Linked DNA regions of Homo sapiens: region 2 is linked to region 1. Evidence: fine-mapped QTL for protein levels in blood plasma. A gene starts in region 1. The other region holds a variant in brackets. All regions are shown on one strand. Distances are between the middles of the regions.

Region 1 (8,646 bases):
ACCCACTGCCCACTGGGTTCTGAATCAAATGCAAGAAATGGGTGGGCATTTCAGAAGACCTTTTCATCCCTTTCTCCCTTCCCACTGCATTCAGCAGCAGCCTGTTCTGAGCCAATGCCCAGAGCACCCTCCTTTAGCCTAGAAGGCAGCTGGTCTCAGAGTCAGACTGTGGCCTGTGCCTGGAGGATGGACACGGATCTTTGGAACATACATGGTGTCCAGGTCCCTTCTGTGGGCAGAGCCTTTTGCAGGTTGCAGATTAATTTCACAGCCAAGTGTTCCAATGCAGGAGGCCAGGAGAGCAGTGGTTCTCTCAGCCAGTGGCCAGAGGTCCAGCTGTGAAGTGCAGGAACTGTGGTAAGCACCTTGCCAATGCTGTTGTCTCATGGAGCCCACACACGGTCCTGCTGCTCACAGAGAAGGAGATTGAGGCCCAGAGAGGCAAGGTGCTGCCCCGGGGTCACACAGTCAGCCAGAAACTGACTCGGGGTCAATGCATAGTCATCTGATGCCCAAGCCTGGTGCTGGTTACCCACAGCGCTCACTGCCTCCCAGCTGCGGAAGGAGCCCAGAGATGGGATGTGGGGGGTCTGAGGTTGGCCACACGGTGGATTTAAATCAAGCCAGGGCAAGCACTGGGTCTCCTGACTCTGGATCCACGGTGCTTTCCACTGCCTGCCCCACATGTGTGGGCAATTATAAGTCCCAGCTCTTCTTCCCGCAGAGGAGGGGGGCTGCTGATAACTGCTGTCTGGGAGGAGGGTGCTGACCAGATGGTCTCTTTCCTCTCTCAAGACCAAGCCAGGGCCCGGGCAGACCTTGGAGCAGTCAGACCTGAGGCTGCACTTTCTGCTGGGGAAGGTGCTGAAGCCAGGAGCAGGCTCTGCAGGAGGATGGAGATTCTTCCCTCTGACTGGGAGCTTCCCGGGGAGCACGAGGTAAGCCTTTAGAGTCAGGCAGACTTCAGCCTAAACACCACCTTAACTCACCGTATGGCCCTGGGAAAGTCACTTAGCCTCTCCAGATCTCAGCTTCCTCATCTACAAAAAGTAGGTAATAACACTGATTTCAAAAACTTGCCATGAGGACTCCAAGGTGTGTGAAGTACCAGGCTCTATGCCTGCATGAGGTAGGTGTTCAGGGACTGTATGTCCCTGAAGGCTGTGGATTCAGGGTCTCCTGCTTGGAGACAGGGGAGGACTGCATGACTTCAGAACTTGTCACTAGAGGCCTCTGTGCAATTGGGAGGTCACAGAGGGAAGCAGAGATACTCCTCCCTGCTTGCAATGGAGGAATGCTGCCTGGAGTAGCCACACGATGTCCTGGAAGGGCACCTGTGAGAAGGCTGGAGGCCTGGGTTCTAGTCTCACACTTGGGAGCAGAAGGTCTTCAGTGAGCTCCTCCTCCCTTTCACCAGGACATTTTTTCAGCCGCACTGCCTATCCAGGGCTGGGCACTGGGGGAAGAGCACAGGATGGGGAAACCTTAAACCTTTCCCCAGCAGAAAGTGCGGCCTCAGTTCTGACTGCTGGGGCCTGAACAATCTCTGATGAACAAACAGAACATAAACAGATCACCAACAGGGGAGGGCCAAGTAACATGGCTTCAGCACAAAGTGCATGGCTAGCACTTGGAAGACAGGAAGAACCTAGGAAGGCTGCCTGGAAGAGGTGGTGTATGGAATATCCCTGAAAGAAAAGTGATGAGGAAGGGCATTCCAGAAAGGGGGAAGAGGGAGGGCAAATGCCCACAAGCAGGATGGTGCGCATTCCTTCTGGGAATTCTGGGATCTGACTGGCGGGAACAAAAGGCCCAAGTTTGGAGTAATGGGGCACGGGGAGATTCCAACCTCTCCAGGCTGTGCCACTTACTAGCTGTGTGGCTACAGTTATGTGGCTGCGTGAGCCTCAAGTTCCTCATGTATAAAACGGAGGTAAAAACAGTCACTGCCTCTGGGGTTGCTGGTGAGCATTACATGAGATCAGTCTCATAAAGCACTCAGCACAGTTGCGGCGTGCAGTAAGTGTCAAGCAGTGGCAGCCTCTGTTAGGAGCTGGGACTTTCTCCAGGCACTGGGGAGCCATAGGCGGATCCTGGGCAGGGAGGTGGTGTGATTGGATTTATGCTTTAGAATGGCATGGAGAAGGGGTAGAGTCCAGAAGGAGGGAGACAACGAGGAGGCCTGAGCAGCTGCCTGGGACCAAAGGAAATGGCCCAGTGGCTGACCCCTTCTTCACAGAGGAGCCCCCAGATCTGACAGCCAGGTCCCAGCCCCCAGACCCAGCAGCATGACCGCTAGGGGGTTGCCATGGCCGCCCATCACCCTCGAACTTTCCTAGCCCTCAAACTTTTCTAGCTGCTGGGGGTTTAGAAGGATATCTTAAGAATCTAGAAAATTTGCAAATCCATTTAAATCCCCAGAGGTTGCCTGGCGGCTGACTGGCCTAAAGCCAGACTGATTCTTAGAAACAAGGCTTGGGCCAAGGAACAGCGGCTATGGTCCTGAGGTCCCCAGTCCCCTGCTTTCTGTGTACCCTGCCTACCTTCTCCCAATTCCCCTCTCCCGCTCTTCCCAGCTCTCCCCACTCCCCATTGACTGTGCTGTGCTTTGGAGGCCCCCAGTCAGCACCCAGAAACCCCTGAGGATTGTTTGATGAAGGCAGGAGCAGCAGGGATGATGAGGTGGAGGCCACTCACCCCAGAGCAGGGGAAAGGAGAAAACTGGCTCCTCCATCCCTGACATCACCCACAGTCTCCCAGCCTCCTCTCATCTTGTTTTGTTAAAAATATCTTCCCTTTTTTTTTTTTTTTTTTTTTTTACCTACTCGAAGAGATGCAGGTTAGGGCAAAGGGACAGGGCATGGGGCTGGGGTTCCCACTTTTTCCAGCACTTACCTTGCTGCTGATGGCTTCTGGTGTGGGCACAGTTCCAGGCTCTGGACAGTCACCCCCTCCAGGAAGTCCTCCTTACTGCCCTCTCCCAGTTATCAGAAAGACTGCTGGTCCCAGAGTGGGTAACAGCTGAGTAGAAGGACAGGCAGGACTGGTGCAGGCTCCTGAAGGCTCAGGAGAACAGAGGGATGGAGGAAGGGGGCTGCTGTAGGGGAGAGGAGCGGCCCAGCTTCGCCTCACTCCCCAAGCATCCTTCGGGAGGAGCAGAGCCGCCAGAGGGGCCGCCCTGGGTCTGGCTGTCTGCGTTGGGCAGGGCGAGCACAGGCTGCTGCTGGGCAGCAGGGCTGAGGGGCCGGCTCTCTCCTCCTCCTTGTTGATCTCCTCTCTGGCTCCAAGTTGCTCACAGAGCGATCCTGGGTCCCAGATAGGGCGGGCAGTCACTGCTGGCTGCTGGCAGCCTCAGGAGCTCACACCACTATGGGCTTCCATGCCCCCCCACTTCCCCCGCCACTTTGGGGGAAAGGCTGCAGGGTGGCTTCTGATTGGCCCAGCTGGGAGAAGGGGGGGCGGCGGGGCAGGGAGGGTGGACGCGTGCGTCTGTTTTCAATTTCAGTTTTTTTCCCCCTCTCTCTTTCTTTTCCCCCAAGTTTCTTGTTTTTCTTCTTTTCACTCTGCTTACTCCCTCCCATCGCCCGTTCGCTCAGGATGTGAGGGGATGCTTAGAAATTCCACAGCCCACGCCAGCCGCCAGCTGCTGAGTCACTTTTGTCAAAGAGTGGCCTCGGCCCCACTTTCCCGATGCCCATGTCGGGTGGCGGCCTCCCCTTGCCATGGCACCCAGGGAGATCATTTCTCAGTGCCTCAGTTTCCCCATCTGTAAAGGAGACTCTGATCATCTCTGTGGTTGATTCAGTCAACCTTCATTCATTGAACAAGCATACTGAGCATTTACTACATTCTAACACTGTACTGGGTGCAGGGGACAGTAGCAAGACGTGGTCCTGACCTCAGAAGCACCAGGCTAGTGAGCAAGATATTCATTGGGCAAGCAGGTGCCCGGTCGGCAGACAGGAGGCTGAGAGTGCATTTAGAAGGACCCCTAACGGAAGCCTGAGAGAATCAGAGAGCACTGCTGAGAAGAGGTGACATGGAGGAGATGGAAAGATCCTCCAAGATGATCAGCCGTTTTTCAGAAGGACAAACCAAGGCCCAGGGGTGAATTGGCACAGAGAGGGAATGTGATTTGGTCAAGGTCATCCAGCACAGATTGGATATCTCTGGATATTGACAGATACATTCCTTTTCACGTCTCAAAGCCCCTGGGGTGCAAGGAGAGGATTATTTGCCCCATTTTATAGATGGGGACACTGAGGCCCAGAGGAGCAAAATAAGCTTCCCAAGCTTACGCAGCAATGGCAGAGCTGGGGCAGAACTAGGTCTCATGAGACACATGATGGAAGAGACACAAGTCATCTGACCCCCACCCGAGACCCCTATTCCAGTGTAGATGAACCCCCTGCCCTGCTTTCTTCCTAGGTTCCCCCTGTGGCTCTTTCATTCAGTCACTCAACAAGATACTTTCTTTTTTTTTTTTTTTTTTTTTTTGAGATGGAGTCTTGCTCTGTCTCCCAGGCTGGAGTGCAATGGCGCAGTCTAGGCTCACTGCAACCTCCGCCTCCCAGGTTCAAGTGACTCTCCTGCCTCAGACTCCCAAGTAGCTGGGATTACAGGCGCACACCACCACACCTGGCTATTTTTGTATTTTTTGTAGAGACCGGGTTTCACTATGTTGGCCAGGCTGGTCTCAAACCCCTGACTTCATGATCCACCCACCTCAGCCTCCCAAAGTGCTGGGATTACAGGCTTGAGCCACCGCACCCAGCCTCAACAAGATACTTTCAAGTATCCGTTTTGTTCCATTTCCATTCTCTGGCTCTCCTTTCCTACCAGGGTCTGCCAAGACTCCTCCAGTTCCCCCAGCTGGGTCTCTTCTTCCACCCTCAGCTTCTCAGATCAGAAGACATCTCCAGTTACAGACTCCTAGCCCTCAGATGGCAAAGGGCATTATTTTAGAAGGGCATATAGAGTGGGCTTACCACCCCTGCTCCCACTACTGCACCCACAGGGCAACTGAATTCCAGAGGGTGAAGAAAGCTGTCCCAGGTGACACAGGTAGAGGCTGGCTCTGCCCTCCTTCCCTCTGCGCCGCTAAGTCTTTCCTCCTCAGCTTCCCCCAGACCCCTGTTCACAGAGCAGAGGATTTGCGTGAGCTGGGATTCCATGCCCACCACAGTCAACTATCTTGCATTTCTTGGTCTAGTCCCAATCGGGATTGCCCAGCAGAGCATCTGGGCTGGACCACATAGAAGGAGAAGTGTTCTCAGACTGGTTCCCAGCCACGGGTTGGGGACCATAAGAGTACCCCGAGAGAGGGGGCCTGGCCAGGTCTTTGTGGCAACAGGGAAATAGGGGAATGTGAAAAGATCCCACAGGCCACAAGGTCAGGCTTGCACAGGGATTTCTTGTGCCCAAAGATTCCGTCAGAAATTTACGACTCCCCTCCTAGCATCTGCCTGGGCCATTCACCTCTGAATCCTTGGCTGACCCTCTGCAGCCAGGCCAGCCTGGGGGAGGCCACGAGACACACCAACCCCCTAGTCCCCAAAGAAGCTAGTCTGGGAGTCAGAAGACCCAGCCACAGACTTATCAGGAGAACTTGAATAAGTCCCTTGCCCTGCCTGAGCCTCGGTTTCCCTATTTGTACATAACAGTTGTGGACTCACTGTGCTACAAGGCCCTTGGGATGGTCCGTCTGCAATTTCCCTTAGAGCTGGACTCTAGCAAGGGAGAGGAGGCTGGTGGGCCCTAGGGCAGGGGTACAGCTGGGGCCAGAGATGCAGCACAAAGGGGAGGGGCAGTTGGCGGTGGCTCCCCTGGGAAGCTGGCGGCCTCCAGTTTCCGGCCAGCCCAGCCGTCCTGAGGCCCATCTGGAATTACTTAGCCCCTACTGCCATTAACCCTTGGTGGGCACCAGGACTGTCACTCCTCCTCTCAACTGAGATATGGGTGGGAGGTGCAGAGCTACAGGGAGCAACCCAGGGCACTCACCAAGGGGCAAAATTGTCATGATTGACAGAGGAGGTTGGAGAGCTAGAGATAGAGCTGGGTTCGAATCCCAGCTGCTCCAGTTTCAAGCTACATGAGCTTAGGCAAGTCACTTAAACTCCTGGCCTTGGTTTCCTCCTCTGGAAAATGGAGACAAGTCAAAGACTGATTCATAAGACTCTTCGGTTTGTACAAAGGACTTAGTACATTGCCTCGAAGTGTACTAAGTGTACACTATTACTGAAATAGTGAGTTTCCTCATTCGAGCAGCATTCCATCACTGTGTCTTCCTGGGCGGAGCCTCCCTTTTCTGGGTCTTGGATTCCCCTTGTGCACTCTGCCTTCAGCGGCAATGGACGGGGCACATGGGCAGTGCAGCACCATCACCCTGGGGTGGTCAGCATGGCCCCCAGCCCCACTGTGGACAGGACAAGCTATGAACATCCTCACACCTACACAGATACTGGGAACCCAGTCCAGCCTTGGACAATGCTGTCTTGGGGAAGCCTGGGCTGAGAGTAGGTGGGCAGAGCATGGAATGTGGGGAGCCCTGCCTGAAGTGGACTGGGATGGGGTACAGTGGGAGAGGGGGGCTCTGGGCCTTAGGGTTCCACACTGCCTTCCCCCACAGCACGGTGGCACACTCAAGAGTTAAATGTCTGGACTCTGATGTTGGCAGCTCCAACCCAGCTCCACCACTTCCCAGCCATGTGACGCTGGGAGATGATATGACCTGAGCTCTCTGAGCCTCAGTACCTTCAACTGTGAAATGGGGACACATGTGCCTACCTCACAGGGTTGTGGAGAGACCTGAATAAGCCATGCCCACAGGCATTTTGTCAAGCCTCGAGCAAAACAAGAAAGTGCCACAAAAGGTGACTGATCCAGCTGGGCGCGGTGGCTCACGTCTATAATCCCAGCACTTTGGGAGGCCAAGGTGGGTGGATCACCTGAGGTCAGGAGTTTGAGACCAGCCTGGCCAACATGGAGAAACCCAGTCTCCACTAAAAATACAAAATTAGCTGGGTGTGGTGGTGCATGCCTGTAATCCCAGCTACTCGGGAGGCTGAGGCCAGAGAATTGCTTGAACCCGGGAGGCAGACGTTGTGGTGAGCTGAGATGGCGCCATTGCACTCCAGTCTGGGCAACAAGAGTGAAACTCCATCTCAAAAAAAAAAAAAAAGGTGACTGATCCTCAGGTGTTACCAAGAGCTGCTGTCATAGAAGTCCACCATCAGGGCTGGAGGGAAGCTCACCAACATGCTCATTACACAGCCGGTATGACTGAGGCCAGTGATGGAAAGGAACTTGTGCAAGGCCTTGTGATGTGTCAGCCACAGACTGGGACTGGAACCGAGGCTTTCTGTCTAGACTCATAAGCCCATGCTCTTCCCCAGAGGAGGGAACCAGGCTGAACAGACCCCCGTGCTAAGACCCCCCTCCCCCACCCACGCTTGTCAGAGCCGGAAGTTGCTGCTCTCAGTGGGGCAGGGGGAGGGAACCGGAAAGGGAGCCTGAGTGGGAGAATTCCCAGGAGGCCGCTCAGCCCTCACTCAGGCAGGGCAGCGGCCACCACATCTGGCTCTCCCACGCTCCTGGCTCTGCCCCCACTCCCAGGCTCCCCAGGCAGAGTTGTGGGGTGGGGGTGGGGGGTGATGAGGAAGCAGCACACATACCCCAGGCGCTCACACAGTCATCTTAGACGTCAGGACCCTAAGATATGTCCCTTCTGCTGGCATGGACACTGAGGCCCAGAGAGTGGAGGGGACTTGTCTGAGGTTCACGGTGGGGCTGAGGGAAGCTAGAATACAGGACTCCTGATCCCCAGCTCAGTGTCCTTCCACCCATGCATGCCCTGAGCAGAGCACGTAGATCCTTGTGCCTGTGGCTGGGGAGCCAGAGAGGCACAGAGTGGGAACTGTCCCCCTACCTCCTGGACACTCAGTGTAGTGGCTTTCTGAGTGGGCAAAAGACCAGCAGGGGCCTTGGGCCACATTCCCTCCCTAGATTCTTAGGACTGTCTTACTGAGCCAGACTGTAGCCACCGAGGTCTGCCAGGGTCCCAGGAGATAAAGGCTTCAAGACACTGCCCATTCAGCCTCTCCTTGCCCCCTTGCTGGCCTCCCTCTCAGCCCCAGGACCGTGGGCAACTTGAGTGTGTCCATCTGGTACACGCAGATGGCTCATAGATCCCCAGAAGAGCAGGGCCCTCACCCTCACTGAATACACTGGCTCCTAAGGTCTGGAGAGCACCAGAACTTTTTTGAGGGCACACAGCAGGCCTAGGGTGGGGCCTCTCCATCTAACACCCAGTTATCACTAAGATAACTGTTCCTCCAACCATCCATCCATGCGATAGAAGTTAATTGAGGACCTACTATGTGCCCTGTCCTCCTGTCCTCACAGAGTTCACAAGCAAACACCGAGGAAACCACAAATTAATAATATCAAATTGTGATGAGTGTGATGAAAGAGACAAAGAGAATAATGAGCTGGGTGGATGGGAGTTCTTGTTCAGGTACAATAGGGCTTCTGTGGGGAGGAAGCAGGCCTGTGAGGCCACACACATTCAGGAGTAGGAACAGTGTTCGAGGCAGGGGGAAAAGCATCTGCAAAAGCTTGGAGGCCAGAGAGATCTTGATGGGTTCG
Region 2 (5,260 bases), 30 kb before region 1:
CTCTGAGGAGGGGAAGAGGCCAGGGTAGGGGGAAGCAGGCCGAGGAGGCCAGGGAGAGGAACGCTCTTTCCCAAACCAGACCCAGACTCGGGAGCAGTGCCTGCTGCAGTGTGATGGCCCCTCTAGTGCCTGCAAATCAGCATCAGGCCACCCTGGGAGAGGCTAAGTGTGTGGGGAGGGGCAGGGAGAGGTGAAGGCCCAGATGTGGAGGGCTCCAAGGACTACTCACATTTAAGCATCTTGACGGCCACTTTCATCGTGGCCTGAGAATGGCTCAGGCCATGAGCCGTGGCCTCCACCACCTGCCCAAAGGCCCCAGAGCCGAGGGTGCGTCCTGGTGCAGAGATGATCCATTAGCTCCTGGCCTACCAGGAAGCTGCACCGCTCCCCCAGCTGCCCCCCTCCCCCCACTCCCCTACCCCCGGCCGCTATCACCCTTCCTGCCCAGTGAGGGGAAAGAGCCACTCTCTTAGGTCAACCTAGACATTACTTAAACCACCTTGGACTCAGGATATTCCCTAAACACACTCCTGCAACCACAATACCTCCCTGTCTTTCCTGGTATCTCATCTAAGTCCTGCCTGCTTTCTGCCCCATCTTTAATCTCTGGAAAGTTTCTTCCCTCCCAAGGGAGCACGCTTCTCTGTACCTCCTCAGCTTCCCCAGCCAGACCAGGCCTGCTACTCAGCCTGTCCTCAATCCTTCCACTTTTGCCACATAGGGATCCCGTCTCACAGGGTCACAGGATCATAGAACCTCAATGCTAGGCAGTTCCTGGGGGATGGTCTTGCTCTCATTGTACATAGTAGGAGATGGAGGGCCAGAGAAGGCAAGACACCAGCCCTAGGTCTCATAGCTAGTCATGGCAAGGCTGGGACCAGACCTCAGAGAGTCTTCCCACCCAACTTGAGTCCCCACACTGCCACATGAGGCCTCTCAGGACTGACCCAGCACAAGCTGGTCCCGCGGCAGCTCCCACGTGGAGTCATAGGGCAGCTGCATGGGGTCCACGTAGATGTACTCATGGCCGTCAGAGCTCACAGACTCAATCACCTTCCATCGGATCTCGTAACGTGGCTTCTGGAGGACCAACCCCAGGAATTAGTTATCAGAGGGAGTCTCAGGCCCTGAGCCCCATTAGGTTCGTCCGTCTAGGACACATGGGGCAGGAGACCCTGAGGCCCAGAGAGGGGCAGGGGCATATTTGAAGTCACACAGCAAGTGCTCAACTGAGCCAAGGTCTTCGTGGGCTCGGAGGGAACAGGGACCAAGGGGCCCCAGAGGAGGCTTCAGGACTTGGCAGACTGAGGAGCAACTGGCAGCTGAGGGCCTGGCTCATGAGAACCTCCTCTCTAGCTTCTCTCCCAGCCTTCGCTGCTCCTCAGATGGAAGTAGTAGAGCAGGTGACCCCAGAAAGTGACACCAGGTAGGGTACTCGGCTGGATGCGGATGGCCCTCCCCAGTGCTGGGCAAGTCAGAAAGATGTAAGCTTAGAATGTTGACATCTTAAGGTGTTGGAACCACAGGACTGGAATTTTAGAAAGATGGGATCATGAGGTGCTGTAATCCTGATTCAGGAAGCTTAAAATGTTGGAATCACAGAATGGTAAAATCTCAAAGCAGAACACTGAAATTACAGACTAATAGGATCAGAATGCATTTCAGTAGAATCACAGGTTCTCCATGGGTGAGACCTGGAAGAATCCTGGAGCCCATGCAGTCCACCTCAAAGGTCCCATGCTCCATGGCTAGGATGAGAGGAATGGTGTCTCAGCAGGACCCGGGGACTTAATGACACAGTAGGGGAAGGGAATCCTGGATAGCTCGGGCCAGGCTCAGGTTGGCCCAGACTGCTGGGGGTGGAGGAAGCTGAGACAGCCAGCGTCACAAGTCCCCACCTGAGTTCCATGCTGAGCCCTGCATGTGGCCAGATCACGCAGCATTCAAGGAGGGCAGAGGGGTGGAATTTATGCAAAATAATGATGTGCCAGTCTTCACCCACTGGGCCAGGGAGGGGCTTACCTTCTGCCAAAGCATGATGAGGATGATAAGGGAGATGATGGTGAGCACCACCAGGGCCAGGATGGCTGAGATCACCACCACCTTAAAGGGCAAGGCTGGAGGCAGAGATGAGAGCAGGCCATGAGCAAACTGGGCAGCTACCCTCCCCTCACCCCATCTTTGGCATCATAGATCCCTCCGTACACATCCTGTCCAGAATAGAAGCGCCCACCTCCCCATCAGCCTGCAGTGTCAGACCCTCAGCATCTCGCTCTAGGCCACACGTTCAGACTGTCCTGTAAATACTCCATCCCCTCAGTAACTACCCCCACTCAGATCACTGCTGGCCTCCACGTCCCTTCAGCCCTGCCAGTCAGTCTGGCCTTGCTGCCAGAGCTCTGGACGGGGTGCAAATCCTGTTCTGAGTTCCTGTCCATTGCCTGGACCTCCCATTAGCCCTGGAGCCCCTGAGGGCTGGGTTGTGGCTTACCTCTCCTCTGAGTCCACACCCTTGCTGGGGCTGCCACAGCTCGGTCAGACTCCAAGCTCCATGCCTGACCGAGTGGCCGGTGGACTGAGTGAGTGGCCACTGAGGGAGCAATGGCTGAGACCCCCAGCCTGATGAATCCAGACCTCAGCACGGAGGCCACTTCTCCCCACTTCACCCAAAGGGCCCAGTTGGGGTTGGAGTGGTGACGGTAGTTAACAAAGTGGGGCTCACACTGGCCCTTACAAGCCTCGAGTCTCCTCCACCCTCAAGGCCTCAGCCTCTTCGCTGTACAGCTTCCCACTCTCCTCATCCAGCCCCGCCAGACCTGCCTCTCCCCTGCCCTGCCCTGCTGGCCACCCATGAGGTCCTATGGAACTCATTCCCTCCTCTTCTGTCCCCAATCTATGCTTCTTTGCTCCCTAGGGAGTCCTGTCCCACCTCCTCCTCCCCATCCATTGCTATAACCTCAGTCCCTAAAACCACACCTGGCACATGGTAGGTAGCTGGTACTATTTGTTGAATTACTAAGTGAATGCCATTGTTATGCTTAAAATCTTTGGATGGAGGCTGGGTGCAGTGGCTCATGCCTGTAATCCCAGCACTTTGGGAGGCCAAGGTGGGCGGATCACGAGGTCAGGAGTTCAAGACCGGCCTGGCCAATATGGTGAAATCCCATTTCTACTAAAAATACAAAAAATAGCTGGGCGTGGTGGTGGACTGCTGTCATCCCAGCTATTTGGGAGGCTGAGGCAGGAGAATTGTTTGAACCCGGGAGGCAGAGCTTGCAGTGAGCCGAGATCACACCACTGCACTCCAGCCTGGGCAACAGAGCCAGACTCCATCTTAAAAAAAAAAAAAAAAAAAAAAAAAACTTTGGATGCTTCCCCATGTTATCAGTAAAGGAAAAAGGCCAAACTCCTAAAATGGCACATAAGGCAGAGGCTTCATGACTCTACCTCTGCTTCCCTCTCCAACTTCGTCTCTCACCCCTTATCCATTCTCCCTTACCCTTACCTATCCTCGCCATGCCTTCCTCCTCAGGGTCCCAGACCAACATCCCTCTTCTCCTCCCTCCTCCCGCTCATCACACATCTCGGTCCTGGGAAGGAAGCCTGCATCTTCTAGGCAGCCATCGCTGGAGGCATGAAGGAGCCCTCTTGCAGCCATCCTAGGCCCTGTGTGCTGGTGCTCAGCTTCCCGCTCAGGCTTTAGTCACACAAAAGTGTCACATCTGCCTTGGCTCAGAGCTGGTCTTCCACTCAGGCTGTCCACACTGTCTGCCCAGATACCCACTTGCTCAGAGAATGTGTATGCATGTGTGGGAGCATGGGTGAAATGAGGGGATGAAAGAAGCCCACCCATCCACCACAGGGCAGGGGACAGGAGGCAGCTCTAGACAGGCACGTGCCTGAACATGCCCAGGGACCTGCATACACAGAGACCAAGATGCCTCACATGGCCTTTGGAGCCCTGCCTGCTCTAGATCTGCCGACCCCTGTAGCTCCATCCCATAGCACTTCCTTCCCCTTTATCTGCCACCCTTCCAGCCCCTAAGTATCCACACACTCGATCCTCCAGCCAGATTGAGTTGAACTCTTTTCATTTCTAGGAACTCATTTTGCCTCTGGGCTTTTACACAGGCCATTCCCTCTGAGTGGGACACCATTCCTTACCAGGCTAACTTCTAGTCATTTTTCAGGTTTTCACCTAAAGGTTCCTTTTCTAGAATACTTTCCTGAATCCCATAGCTGGGCATGGGACCCCTTCTCCCTCCAGGCTTTGCCCCTAATGTGGTGATCCCGGAGGGAATTGCCAAGTTCCTTGTCTGCCTTCTCTCTCTGGACTATGGGTACTAGGAGGTCCAGGCAGGGCTGAGCCCTTTGACCTTTATACTTCAATGAGAAGTTGGGTCCTCATATTTATCGAATGAAGAAGAAAGGTGAATAAATGAAGCACACTCATACAGGTGCATGTATGCATAAGGACGGGCAG[C/G]TAGATACACAAAAGCATCAAGACACTGGTAGGCATTGTTCATACGCACAGAAATTACACGTGTATGTGTACCTGCTAACAGATGTACATTGTACAGCAGGCACATGTGTACGGGAATTATGCTTGTACACTTTTCTAGAAAGGTGTGCTCCAATTATATGCTTACAGACATGCACTATGCCAGTTTGCATGCATGCAAAGGAATTGTACATGCATTGCTTGTACACATGTACAGGAATTGTGTACCCACCGGTACATGCATACAGACATACACTGTGGGGTTTAAACAGATGTCTGGGAATTAGGCATGCTCATGTACATGGCTTACAAACACGTGGTGGGTTTACATACATGGACAGGCATAGTGCACAGGTGTATGCTTATACACATACACTCTAGCTTTACAGGAGTGACTGGAGATTGGGCATTCTTCAGTAGACGATTTACATATCTACACACAGAGGATTTGCACCTATGTTCAAGGAACAGGCATGCTCATGTACATGGCTTACGACATACATATAGTATATGTACACCACACTGAAGGATATTCATATCCATGGCTTACAGACTTGTGTTTGTACACGTGTGTACCCATATTGTGTTTGCCAGAATGTGTTCCTATGCATGTACACAACAGGGTTTCACAATGCTCCTGTTTGCCCCTGGGCATGCTAACTCCTTTGGCCTGCTGTGGGTACATGGGCACATTACCAATTAGGCAGGATTAAGGTAGGGATTGGGATCGTCAGGGGCCACTGAGGCTGGGGACTCACA

The links. PIP is the posterior inclusion probability: the model's chance that the variant is causal. Protein levels are from antibody-based Olink assays in UK Biobank. Linkage for the fine-mapping came from a reference panel and not from the study's own genotypes, which makes the PIPs less certain.
Region 2: its variant is fine-mapped to the plasma level of the PDGFRB protein (UK Biobank, PIP above 0.99).

What each region holds. Positions count from the first base shown.
Region 1 is chr5:150,152,502-150,161,147 of GRCh38, forward strand. It overlaps PDGFRB (platelet derived growth factor receptor beta), which reads right to left and starts at 3,344. Exons shown (of 23, transcript NM_002609.4): 1 at 2,896-3,344. RefSeq lists enhancers at 64-584, 585-1,104, 5,262-6,050, 7,569-7,638, 8,425-8,646.
Region 2 is chr5:150,124,498-150,129,757 of GRCh38, forward strand. It overlaps PDGFRB (platelet derived growth factor receptor beta), which reads right to left. Exons shown (of 23, transcript NM_002609.4): 10 at 5,260; 11 at 2,023-2,117; 12 at 948-1,080; 13 at 230-334. Among named protein-coding and RNA genes, the nearest start is that of PDGFRB, 29 kb to the right of the region's middle. RefSeq lists an enhancer at 3,293-3,794. The variant C/G (reference allele first, on the strand shown) is at 4,484.